Linked DNA regions of Homo sapiens: all the other regions are reported to be linked to region 1. The links are microRNA targets in miRTarBase. Many come from high-throughput screens and were not tested one by one. Region 1 holds a microRNA gene; each other region holds the end of a gene's coding sequence.

Evidence for each region. The annotated mature microRNA hsa-miR-101-3p reads UACAGUACUGUGAUAACUGAA and lies in region 1 at 2,303-2,323, opposite strand. An mRNA with a match to its seed (bases 2 to 7 or 8) in the 3' UTR can be bound and repressed. Matches are read on the target gene's strand: a 7mer-m8 pairs with bases 2 to 8, a 7mer-A1 pairs with bases 2 to 7 and ends in A, and an 8mer does both.
Region 2: the mRNA of LEFTY1 is a reported target of hsa-miR-101-3p. Seed matches in the 3' UTR shown: 7mer-A1 at 3,007-3,013.
Region 3: miRTarBase lists SACM1L as a target of hsa-miR-101-3p. Seed matches in the 3' UTR shown: 8mer at 2,365-2,372.

The regions. Positions count from the first base shown.
Region 1 is chr9:4,848,431-4,852,667 of GRCh38, reverse strand. MIR101-2 (microRNA 101-2) reads right to left here and starts at 2,371; the gene lies at 2,293-2,371. It overlaps RCL1 (RNA terminal phosphate cyclase like 1), which reads right to left. Exons shown (of 9, transcript NM_005772.5): 8 at 3,118-3,221. It overlaps LOC124902113 (a long non-coding RNA gene), which reads right to left and starts at 2,301. Exons shown (of 2, transcript XR_007061402.1): 1 at 1-2,301.
Region 2 is chr1:225,883,449-225,887,685 of GRCh38, forward strand. LEFTY1 (left-right determination factor 1) reads right to left here. Exons shown (of 4, transcript NM_020997.4): 3 at 3,951-4,190; 4 at 2,834-3,642. The coding sequence ends at 3,279. Among named protein-coding and RNA genes, the nearest start is that of TMEM63A, 3.2 kb to the left of the region's middle. RefSeq lists an enhancer at 3,697-4,237.
Region 3 is chr3:45,743,000-45,747,236 of GRCh38, forward strand. SACM1L (SAC1 like phosphatidylinositide phosphatase) reads left to right here. Exons shown (of 20, transcript NM_014016.5): 20 at 534-2,410. The coding sequence ends at 670. Among named protein-coding and RNA genes, the nearest start is that of SLC6A20, 51 kb to the right of the region's middle.

The DNA.
Region 1 (4,237 bases):
CTAAGCATCTGACTTAATCTAAGCTTCGTTCCATCTCCACAAGTCCAGGACTTCAGGACCACGCACCTTATCTACAAATGACACCAAGGCTCCAAGATGCTAAATACCATTTCCACGGTCTCCTGGTAGCGCGTGGTAGAGCCTTAAGTCCAGATAGGCTGGACTCCAAGACTTGTGCACTGGCAGAATGCAGAGAGCTCTGGTAACTGCAGTCTCATTCCACAAATAATTTCTGAAAGTGCTAATTAAGATGCATCTTAATTTTTGCTATTTTTCTTGCTGTTAATCCAAAAGTATAAATCCTCCCTCCCTAAACTGTAAAATTAAGCTTGTTGAATGGAGGGTGCAACTACTGTCACTAACTGTAAGCCACCTAAAACTCAACAAATTTAACAGAAATAGAATCTTCATATACCAGTGATTATCCAACAGTATTTTATTCTACTGAAAAAAAATCTCTTGGGCCTTTCTAAAAGAGTTTCACATTGGCCGGACTTGGTGGCTCAGGCCTGCAATCCCAGCACTTTGGGAGGCCAAGGCGGGTGGACCACGAGGTCAGGAGATCGAGACCATCCTGGCTAACATGGTGAAACCCCGTCTCTACTAAAAATACAAAAAATTAGCCAGGCACGGTGGCGGGTGCCTGTAGTCCCAGCTACTCGGGAGGCTGAGGTAGGAGAATGGCGTTGAACCCGGGAGGCGGAGCTTGCAGTGGGCGGAGATTGCGCCTCTGCCCTCTAGCCTGGGCGACAGAGCGAAACTCTGTCTCAAAAAAAAAAAAAGAGTTTCACACATACAGACTTACTTTCTCAAGTAGCACAGAAAACCACCAACAGCAATCCCAATGCTCTTTACATAGACATTTAAAAAGCTGTTTTATACACACGAAAAACAGGTCCAAACTGCTTGAAGAAATGCTTTTTTTTTTTTAAACCAAGGAAGGTCTTGCTTCTGGTTTTCTTTAGAAATCTGAGGTTTCACAAAACAGGTTTCTATGACTTTAACTACACATAAAAATAAATGTGTTAGTTTGGTCTCCAAAGCTCTTGAATCCATTAGAATAAACTATTCCCCCACCATGATGGTCCTCACCGTGGATTTCATCCCTTTTTTATCCTCAACTGTACTCACAAATACAATGTTAACTTTGCCTGCTGCATCCTGCCTTTGCCCTTCATCTCTTTGTGCTGCTGGAGCTGTCCATAGTGATTAGGGGCAGAAAGAGTATGAAACAGATCCAGCTTTCTTGAAAATAGACTCCCTTACCTGTCTTTATGCTAGCTTACCAAAAAGAACGGAGGCTTCCCTTTCCCACCCTGGCAGACCCGTCTGCACAAAGCTCTGGGAGGCAGCAGAATATCTCTAAGCCCCAGCCTCAAGATACATCATCTTACAATTTGTGCTACTCCTTTAAAGCTCCATTCAGAGCAGGACACTGTTTTCACAGGAGAGGAAGTCATTTTATGCAAGTTTTCTGGAAGAAAAGACACTACAATTAATGTTTGGTGAGAAGATGTGTTGAAGAGGACACAGGAACTTTCAAAAATGTCCAGTCATATCTTGAGCATCTCTGCAAAGCTTGAAAACATCATACAGGTCCTGGAGCCAAATTGAAAAATCTCCAAAAGCAAAAGAAAAAAAGTGTCACGAAAAAAAACATATATGTATTCCATTTTCACAGAATGTTCTGCCAAACCCCATGCCCCAGGACCACACACATTCAAGACAACACCCCATACCTCATACCGTGTGTGCAAGCAGGACTTCCCCAGGCCTGAAGCAAGGGCTGGGAAACGGCAGCTACGAGCCCAGCTACAAAGCCGGTGGGGCCACAGTGGCCACACAGCTGGCAGCCGCCTCCAGTGAGCTCTCTACAGGAAGCGAGTCTCTGTACCTAGGGTGCCATTCTTCCAGCCCTCATCTCCTCTCCAAGTACTTAACTACCAAGTCTATTTTAGCATTGTTTACTACTGATGTTACCACGCCATTTAGGATTACTCAATTTTAGGTATCCTGTCCTACGAAATACTTTTACACAAGCTATCAGGAGATAATGTGGTCCTTACCAGTTTCCTGCTTATCAGTCTTCCCTCTCTGCTAACAGAATGTATTCTCTTCCATTTTCCTGTTCTAAAAAAACCTCCCACCACGAATTCCAAAAAAAAAAAAAAAAAGAAAAAAAAAAGCCTCCATAAGAATTTATTTCAAGCTCCTGGTTTTCATGCCCCCAACGCCATGGCCCAAGGGTGCATAGCCCCACCGCAGTCCTCAACCCTTTCTCAATGTGATGGCACCACCATTCTTCAGTTATCACAGTACTGTACCTTTCAGATATACAGCATCGGTACCATGATAACCGAAAAAGGACAGTTCAGTCTCATATCTACCTGAATATTCCCTGCCACCCAGCTCACCAACCTCAGATGGGCCATATGATGATCTCCAAGTATGCAAGCACGTGAAAACACACACACACAATGTCAGTACTCAAATAGGCTGTTTTCCGCAACCTCATTTACTATCAATAGGAAATGCTTCTTTCACAGTGTCATTTATAATTCAAGTCTTCTGACACTGTTCTTTTTGAAGAGTGCTTGCTTTTACACCACAGCAGTCAACTTCTGCTAACATTCAACAATCCAAACTCACTTCTACAATTCCCTACTAGTCCAGTAGCATTAATACAAACTCTGTCTTTTGTCATCTTTCCCAGTGAGCTCATATCCTATCATCTTAGACAAAAAGCCTGTTTTCCCACAGCAAGTTAGACAGCTAAGGAAAAGAATGATTAAAAAAAAACTAGTAATAAAATCCAAGCTACACCAAACCAGGAGTTTACCTCTAACCTGGAAACAAAATCTAAAGCACGAACAAAATAACTGCCCAATAGAGATCATGCAATTTCAGTTACCTGGGATTAAGGAAGGAAAGAAATGCAAAAATCCTTGTATGTAAAAATAAACACCAGGTTAAGAGTGACAACTGCTGGCTGATTTGAGGATAAACACAAGCAGGTGTTCATAGTGCAGGCTCTGTGCAGCACAACACCCTTTGTCATTTTGGGCAATGAGAAAATTACACTGGACAGAATAACGAGGTTGAAAAAGAATAACTTACGTGTAGGGAGAGAGAGGGCCTAGCAGGACTTTGGAAACATCCTGCTGTCCAAGGGTCATGAGTAGTAGCGCCAGGCTTTGGTTGGTCGAGTCTACGCATCCACCCTGTAAACACAAATTAATAATTGTACAAACCAGAAAATGGAAAGCCAACAAAAGAGAGGAGGAAAAAAAAAACCAGAAACATACACTCATAATATCAAAATCCAAAGTTCAAGCAACAATAAAACAGAATACAGGTCTTATAAGAGTAATCATTGTATCAACTAACTGTAGAGGGTTAAACTAACAGTTAATTAGAGCAACTGTAATAGTTGAGACTATCAGAATGAGACTATCAGATTCAAATCTTCTTAAGTGAATCTAGTAAAAAAAAAAAAAAATGAAACTTTCCCTTTATCATTAAAGCAGCAGCAGGAGGACATCATCTTTATTGAGTATATGCAAAAAAAAAAAAATCTTAATCAGTTCTAGAAGATGTAGAGTTAATTCCAAGGGTTAAGTGGATGACGCTCATATTTATTGAATCTGTCACAGAACAACACAGTCTATCTGACATGAAACGGCCTTTTCATGGCCTTACTTTTACACTTATTCAAATACATTCAGGAAACTGCTTGCCATACTCTATTAACTTCTCTCCTTTATCTCTTCCTGAGTTCCTTAAAACTGAAGACTTGTTAAGGTTAGATCCCTTTATTCTTACTACTTATGTATAAAATTATGCCTTCCACCCCCTTTTCCTTCCCTTTCTTCCAAATTAACAAGCAGAACAGACTTCTCTTCAAACACTTTCTCCTGAGGTACAACTGCTTAGGTTGCCTTTCTTCTTTTGTTTTTCATTTTCTCAGCCATTTTAACTGTTTTGCCTCCACTAGACGCATACATAAGCATACAAACACGCTTTCTGATCATTCTTTCTGGAATAACTTTAAAACATATTGTACATAGTCAAAGAAGGATGACCTTGAATTTCTACATATTTTGCACAGGTCAAAATTAGAAATCCAGTCTGACCAAGGCACGTTACTATCCAAGGCTAGACTGAACAGGATAGGTGGCCAGCAGTGTGGTTCATATGGCTACAACTGCCCCTGCCTCCTTTTTAAGGCATGTAGGGT
Region 2 (4,237 bases), not on the chromosome of region 1:
TACCAGCACTTTGGGAGGCCGAGGTGGGCGGATCACCTTAGGTCTGGAGTTCGAGACCAGCCTGACCCGCATGGAGAAACCCCGTCTCTACTAAAAATACAAAATTAGCCGGGTGTGGTGGCACATGCCTGTAATCCCAGCTACTAGGGAGTCTGAGGCAGGAGAATCGCTTGAACCTGGGAGGCGGAGGTTGCGGTGAGCTGAGATTTCACCATTGAACTCCAGCCTGGGCAACAAGAGCGAAACTCTGTCTCAAAAAAAAAAAAAAAAAAAAAAAAATTCCTCCTTACCTCCCTGTCCCTGATTCTAGCGCCAGTCTGTGGCTGTCCAGGAGTGGGGTGGGGAGGGTCTCTTCCTGCCTCTCTCAGTTCTTTTCTGTCCCATCTGTCTTTCCCCTTCTCTCCCCAAAGCTCTAGCCACTAGTTATTTTCCAGGGTTTTTCCTCTATGCCCCCCGCCAGTATCATCTCTGCCCTTGTCCCTCCATAGCTGCGCCTGGCCATCCCCCCTCCCTGCTCTCTTACCTCCACATCTGACGGTCTGCAGAGTCCTGGGTGTGGCCCCTGGACTCCCCGTTGGCTCCTTAGACTGTCCCTGTCCAATCTTTCTTCCACTCCCCACTCCCGCACCTGCCTGTCCTCCTTCCTTCCTCAATGAATGGTGCCCCCACCTGTCTGGTCTGTGCCATGGGTCCAGGCAAGTGCAAGGTTCCGGTCTTGGTAATTAGAATGCTGGAGCCACTGACAAAGATTTCAGAGAGAGAAAGGATTTCTAAATTTGTTCTTGAGTAGGTTAAGGTTATTTCAAAATCAAGAGAAGGCCTTGATGGATCGATATGTGAGTTGAGATAGCCACAGCCTTTGTTATGTCAGTTGTGTGAAGTGCTTGTAAAATCACTATTTTATTTTTTAATTTTTAATTAATTATTTACTTATTGAGACACAGTCTCACTCTGTCGCCCAGGCTGTAGTACAGTGGTGTGATCTCAGCTCACTGCAACCTCCACCTCCTGGCTTCAAGCGATTCTCCTGCCTCAGCCTCCCAAGTAGCTGGGATTATAGGCATGTGCCACCACACCCGGCTAATTTTGTACTTTTAGTAGAGACGGGGTTTCTCTATGTTGGTCAGGCTGGTCTCAAACTCCCAACCTCAGGTGATCCTCAGGATTATAGACGTGAGCCACCGCGCCCAGCTGCACAGCTCTTACAGCTATAAATTCCAGATCCTCTGAAGCTTTATTTTCTTCTCTAAGTATAGATGATAATTTTGATCACAGATTTTATTTTGATGCAAGTAGGATTGGAATAAAGCCCAGTCACTATGCCCAGGAAAGTCAAAGTGTCAAGAACAAAAAAATTTCAGTATTGGCCGGGCGCGGTGGCTCATGCCTGTAATCCCAGCACTTTGGGAGGCCGAGGTGGGCGGATCACAAGGTCAGGAGATAGAGACCATCCTGGCTAACATGGTGAAACCCCATCTCTACTAAAAATACAAAAAAATTAGCCGGGCGTGGTGGCGGGCACCTGTAGTCCCAGCTACTCGGGAGGCTAAGGCAGGAGAATGGCGTGAACCCATGAGGCGGAGCTTGCAGTAAGCGGAGATCGCGCCACTGCACTCCTGCCACTGTACTCCAGCCTGGGCGACTCCGTCTCAAAAAAAAAAAAAAAGAAATTTCTGTATCAATTCTGGGAGGGCAGGTACCATAGATTCTAGAATCAGAATGCATTTTATTTTTATTTATTTTATTTTTGAGACAGAATCTCACTCTATTGCCCAGGCTGGAGTGCAGTAGTGTGATCTCAGCTTACTGCAACCTCCGCCTCTTGGGTTTAAGCGATTCTCATGCCTCAGCCTCCCGAGTGGCTGGAATTATAGGCGCACACCACCATGCCCAGCTAATTTTTGTATTTTTAGTAGAAATGCACTCTCACCATGTTGGCCAGGCTGGTCTTGAACTCCTGGCCTCAAGTGATCCGCCCACCTCGGCCTCCCAAAGTGCTGGGATTACAGAAGTGAGCCATCGTGCTGGCCCTGAAAGCATTTTAATCCTAGTTTCATGTATTACCTAACCAAGATCTTTACCAAGTCTTGGCCAACTCAAGCTCCTTCCTTAGTTTTACAATCAGGTTGACCTAATCGCTGTAGAACTTTCTGCTCCTTCCTCAATTTGCAGAGCTTTGATTAAAATGGAAAATTACAGCCGGGCACAGTGGCTTGTGCCTGTAATCCCAGCCCTTTGGGAGACTGAGGCTGCCGAATGACTTGAGGTCAGGAGTTCCAGACCAGCCTGGGCAACATGGCAAAACCCCATCTCTACTAAAAATACAAAAAATTAGGCCAGGTGCAGTGGCTCACGCCTGTAATCCCAGCACTTTGGGAGGCCGAGGCAGGCGGATCACGAGGTCAGGAGGTTGAGACCATCCTGGTTAACACAGTGAAACCCTGTCTCTACTAAAAAATACAAAAAATTAGCCAGGCATGGTGGCAGGCACCTGTAGTCCCAGCTACTCGGGAGGCTGAGGCAGGAGAATGGTGTGAACCCGGGAGGCAGAGCTTGCAGTGAGCCAACATAGCGCCATCTGTACTCCAGCCTGGGCGACAGAGCTGTCTCAATAATAATAATAATAAAAATACAAAAAATTAGCTTGGCGTGGTGGTACATGCCTGTAATCCCAGTTACTCAAGATGCTGAGGCATGAGAATCGCTTGAACCTGGAAGGCAGAGGCTGCAGTGAGCCGAGATTGGGCCACTGCACTCCCGCCTGGGTGACAGAGTGAGACTCTGTCTCAAAAATAATTAATTAATTAAAATAAAATAGAAAATTACAAAATTATAGAATAAAATGTGTTTTATTCATGTTTTACAAAGTCTTTATTATCTGGATTGGGGATGCACAACCCACACTTAACCCCAGGTCTTAGGTCCAGAGTGGTGGTGGAGGACTTTAGCCCAGATCCAGTGACAGGACAAGTAAACAATGACACATTGGGCTTTCTGCCCTCAGGTTACAGTATCTCCACATGTAAGTGCTTAGAATATAGTGCAGTGAATAATAAGAATAGAGAAAACTGAGCAAGGGCTCTCCAGTGGCCAAAGATTCTCATTCCTGAGAAGCAAAAATTAGGTGAGGTAACTTGTCAGAGGAAGCAAATTCAGGGCTCACTAGAGAGCACAGAGCATTTGTCCATCAGCAGTTCAGTCATCGCCAGCTCTCCTGGTACCCTCGAACACTTCAGAAACACACACAAGTCAAGTCCCTCGATGGCTACACTAGGCGCCTATGGCTGGAGCCTCCTTGGCACGAGCGCACCATCCGAGGCACAGCTGCACTTCTGCACCCTCATGTTGGGCAGGCTGACCACCTGGGGCCTGGTCCTGCCTCCCTCCTTGATGCTGACGATCATGGGCAGCGAGTCAGTCTCCGAGGCGATGCACTGTCGAGGCCCCAGAAACGGCCACTTGAAGGCCAGGGCCTCCGGGGGCTGCCGGCAGGTGCCCACACACTCATAAGCCAGGAAGCCCGGGGGCTCCAGCACCCAGTTCTCGGCCCACTTCATCCCCTGCAGGTCAATGTACATCTCCTGGCGGCAGCAGCGGGTGCCCTCGGTCATTGGTGCTTCAGGGTCACAGTCGCCCTGAGCTCTGTGTGGGCAAAGAGAGCAGGGTCAGCGGTCAGCTGGGAGGGCTGAGGTCAGAGGGCGTCTGGGATGGAGATTTATGATCCACCTCTCAACTTCAAAAAGCTGGATGTTTGTGATATAGGATGGACAGCTAGAAATAACTTGAAAATTAATAACCGATATTTACTGAGGATCTCCTAAGAGTCAGAGGAAGAATTGTATACATTGTCTCATTCATTCCCACAGCACTCTGAAAAGTTGTCCATTTCAAAATAAATGTAATTGCCTGTCTCTTTATTCCGGCTTACCAGTTTGACCCTCAGCACCTACCCATAGTCCCCAAGGTCCAGGGTGTGCAGCTCCAGCTGGGGCTCCCCAAGCCCGGCTGGCGCCCCCTGCGAGGCAAAGCGGACCAGCTTGTGGGCGCCGGACGCCAGCGGGCCCAGATGCTCCCTCTGCACCGACACCTGTAGCAGCAGCGGCTGCCGGGGCCGGCTCAGCTGCTGCCAGAAGTTCACGGCCTCGGTCACGTCGAAGGCCTTCCAGCCGCTCTCGTGGACGGACACCAGCCTGAGACATGACACAGAGACCCAGCGCCGCTTGAGGGCGGGGACTGG
Region 3 (4,237 bases), not on the chromosome of region 1:
ATATTTGTGTATATGCAAAAAATACTCTACAAAATATACATAACTTCAGAAAAGTTATGTATAACTTATGTTTGGTATTTATGAATATTCTATTAATTTTTTGTGCAGGTGTTTTGACAATAGCTCATATCTGTTATAGAACTATGAATTAAACTTAATAGTTATTTGTATTATTAAAATATACTAAAAGTGATCATTATTATTTGTATAATATAATATGAAATCATTTAGTCCAGTGGTTCTCAAAGTGTAGCCTCTTGATCGGTAGCATCAGCATCACCTGGGTACTAGGAACTTGCTAGAATGCAGATTCCTGGGGCCCAACAGTTGATGCTTTATCAAGCCCTGCAGAAGATTCTGGTACTAGCCAGGGTTTGAGAACCACTGGTTTAAACCTTAATTAAGAGGTTCTTATATTTTTCCTGTGAATGTGCTAGTAAACTTTAATGTTGCCAAAATGTGCTAAACAGCTGAAAACTGGGTCTGATATCAACAAACGACTTATTTAGCTTTTTGTTTCTTAATATCAACAGGTGACACTTGGACAGAAACACTGGCCTATGTGCTCTTCTGGGGAGTTGCAAGCATTGGAACATTTTTTATCATTCTTTACAATGGCAAAGATTTTGTCGATGCTCCCAGACTGGTCCAGAAAGAAAAGATAGACTGAATTTGTATTTGTGGAAAGCGGCTTGGCTTGGAAGATTCCATTGTGCAGAACTGGAGTCTTTACTGACCCGCTTTCCACATCAGCCCAAGGTCTTTTTAATGCCTTTATCCAAAAGCACATCTTGTGCTCCATGCAGGATGATGACAGAATTGATCTGATGTTACTGCCTTGATGGTCTCTTTACTATTGGGACAGTTAGATTTATAATTTGAAGCTATTCTGTAATTAAAATATAACCTGAATTCAGCTTGCAGAATGGAAGCTGAATCTGTTCATTGTATTCTATTGATTGTCAATTTAATTAGCTGTTGCAGAATAAGTAATATATTTTAAAAACCTAGCTCCTTTCATTATTTAAAACAGCAAAATTATTTTTGTAGCTCAGTTTCATTATTGTCATTGTAGAAGCGGTCACTATTAGCAGGCATACTTTTCCACACATCTTTGGACTTTTCTTAAAAGTTCAGTAATAAGCTAACTGTGTTTATAAAATGTAAGTCTCTTACAGACATCAAGTAGTTTGATGAGACAGTCTGTGACTTCATGATAGGAAAGAGGAGGATGAGGTCTGGGGTTCTTTAAAGTCTCTGGTGGGCTGCCTCATGACTTTAATCAGCTTGAACTGCCAGTGCACCAGCAGTTTAGGTGTGATGAGAGAATTCAGATATACTTTATCTTTTTAAAAAAGTGTAAATAAAATCAAAGAATGTAAAGTCTATCTCTTACGCTAGAGGTCCAAAGCTGCCTCTGTTTTAAAGATTATCCCAATGTGGAAGATGCCCATGACTGGTCAGCTACTTCCTCCTATACATTTTGGTTTCTTTGAGGGTCACTCATTGAGACACGCAGGCCTCTGAGAGGGTCTTGTTCTAGATTTCATATTGCACTTGGAGGGTAACAGCTGCTTTTTCACGCATGGTACTCTTGATGTTTTTCACTCTGTCAAGGATTTTGTTGGCTATCAATGAATGTGTCTAAAACTTAGTGCTTCCAGGTAGTTATAGTACTCCAAATCAAGGACCAACTTAAACGTTAATTTTTGTGCAAAAACAAACCTGAAAAATATGCTTCGGAAACTGTGCATAGTTCTAATTGTAAGTCAGATTGTATATTCAAATTGTAATTAAGAGATTTAAATATTAGAACGGTATGTAAGGTAGTATAATTACCACTATTTTAAATAATTCAGTTAAACACTGCTGCAATATTTCAGTGTTGTGCTTGAAAATATGTACAGTTTTTTTCCAATATTAATACCTTATGTTGTCCTTAAATATTTCTAAAAGCGCCTTTATTTCAGCATTACCTTTTTTTCATCACTATCTTTTATAAAACATTAATATAAGTCGTTACTTTTAGAAACTAAAGGAAATAATAGCTGGAAAACCCTCTGTAGTTTAAAATCAGTCATTAAACTCACAATAGGGTAAGTAAATATAGCCACCTGTTAACATGTAAATAAGCATAATTTGTTCCAAAGATGGAATATTGAAACTTAGTTCATGTCTGCTGTAAAATATTATTTAAATGCTGCTGGGCATTTCACTTAAAGAACTTAATGTCAACAGCTACAACAAAGACCAAATCTGAACTGCTAATGTGGCTGCTTTGTAGGGAATGGACTAATATCAGTGTGTTAGATCTTAAGGTATCAGTATTTCAGAATCCTGCGACGATTTTATTTCTAAATTCATGTACTGTATGTCCATAAGTGAAAATAAAATGTCATATTCTTTTCTATTATTGGTATCATTCATGTACTTTGAAAGTGATGTTTTTCTTTTTGATCTTAGAATGCTAAAAATCATGCAAAATGATAGACGGTTTGGCTCTGTGTCCCCACCCACCCAAATCTCATCTCAAATTGTAATCCCTACGTGTTGAGGGAGGTACCTGGTGGGAGGTGGTTGGATCATGGGGGATGGTTTCCCCCATGCTGTTTTCATGAGTTTGCACGAGGTCTGATGGTTTAAAAGTGTTTGGCATTTACCCCCTTGCTCGCTCACTTTCCTGCCACCGTGTTAAGATGTGCTTTGCTTTCCCTTCACCTTCTGCCATGATGAAGTTTTGTGAGGCCTCCCCAGCCATGCGGAACTGTGAGTCAAACCTCTTTTCTTTATATGTTACCCAGTCTCAGGTAGTTCTTTACAGCAGTGTGAAGACAAATTAATACACAAAGCAATGCATGATCATCATAGAAAAATTAGAGTAAGCAAGAAAATCAGTAGCTTCTGCAATTTTGCTTTCCAGTTATGATCACTTAAGAAATTTTGTATCTCCTTATAGTTTTTATTTTTAGTTATAGAGAAACCCAGGGAAATATTTAGTAAAGTGTAATGTCCATAAAAAGGTGTCCCCCACCTTCAAATTGTAATTTGTTTTTCAAAATGTTATGAATCCCAGCTGATGTGGGAAAATATTGCTTATTAGAAAATGACACCTCCACAGGAAGGTGTCAGCATGAGGGAAATAGTGATGGAAACACATTGGTACCTAGTGATGGCAGCAGTGGGCCGTCTGGAGTGGCTGCTGCCATTGTGCCGGCCGTAGCAGGGAGGTGTGAGTGGTGGCTGCAGGAGCAGCCGTGGTGATGGTGAGACCCCTGTGCCCCACGTTCCCTGTGCCCCGTGTCCCTGTGGCAGCCGACTGCGCCGCCCCCACCCCTGTGTGGCCGAGTGGGGCCTGCCTCCAGGCCTGGAGCCACCACTGCTCTGGACCCTGGTCCGCGTTACCACCACTGTTGCTTGCTGTTGCCAGGAGGGCGGAGAGTCCCTGGAGCCTGCTGCAGGGATACCCCTGGAGCCTGTCTCCCGGGGGGCCGCCGCAATGTGGCCAGGTTGAGTTGCCTGCCGGCGGGGGAGCAGCGTGATTGTGCATGGAGGACCAGGCAGAGAAGGGCCACAGGCGGAGCTGGGCCCGGGGTGGTGCCATGCTTGCACATGGAGCACGGGGGCCGCGCCTGGGGTGCGGAGCTGGGGCTGTCCTTTGGGGGCCTGGAGTGGGAAGTGGGAGCGGTGCTCACTTTGGGGACACAGCCAGTGGCACGGCCACCGCACCCTTCCTGCTGACTGGCGCCGGATTCCTGCGCCTTGGGAGGAGGCTCTGCGCAGGATTTCCCAGGGCCGGATCCCCAGGGTCTGCCTCATAGCGGGGTGACCTCTGAGCCTGATGCTCCCTAGGACCAGGCCCAGGGCCTGCAATCCGCTCCTGGAGGCACTCCTGCTGGGCAGGGCTGTGAGCCAGGCAAGGGAGAGCCCTAGGCCACCCCTGAGCACTGGGACCACAGGAAGAACTTGTGGTGACGTCACTCTTGCCTCAGATGCCAGCATGGGCCCAGCAAGGAACCTGAACCCCTACCCCAGACTGCGAGGAGGCATGGCCAGAGCCGCCTGCACGTCCATGGAGCAGGTGGGAGACTCGCCTTCCCAGGCACAGGACCTGGGTATCCGCACTGTGCACCCTCGGGAGCCAGATCTCAGAGTGGGGTTGGAGCCGAAGCTGGGCATTGTCACAGCTCAGCAGGGTGTGTGCACACTTGGGGCAGCACTGAAAAGCCAGCCTCCTGCC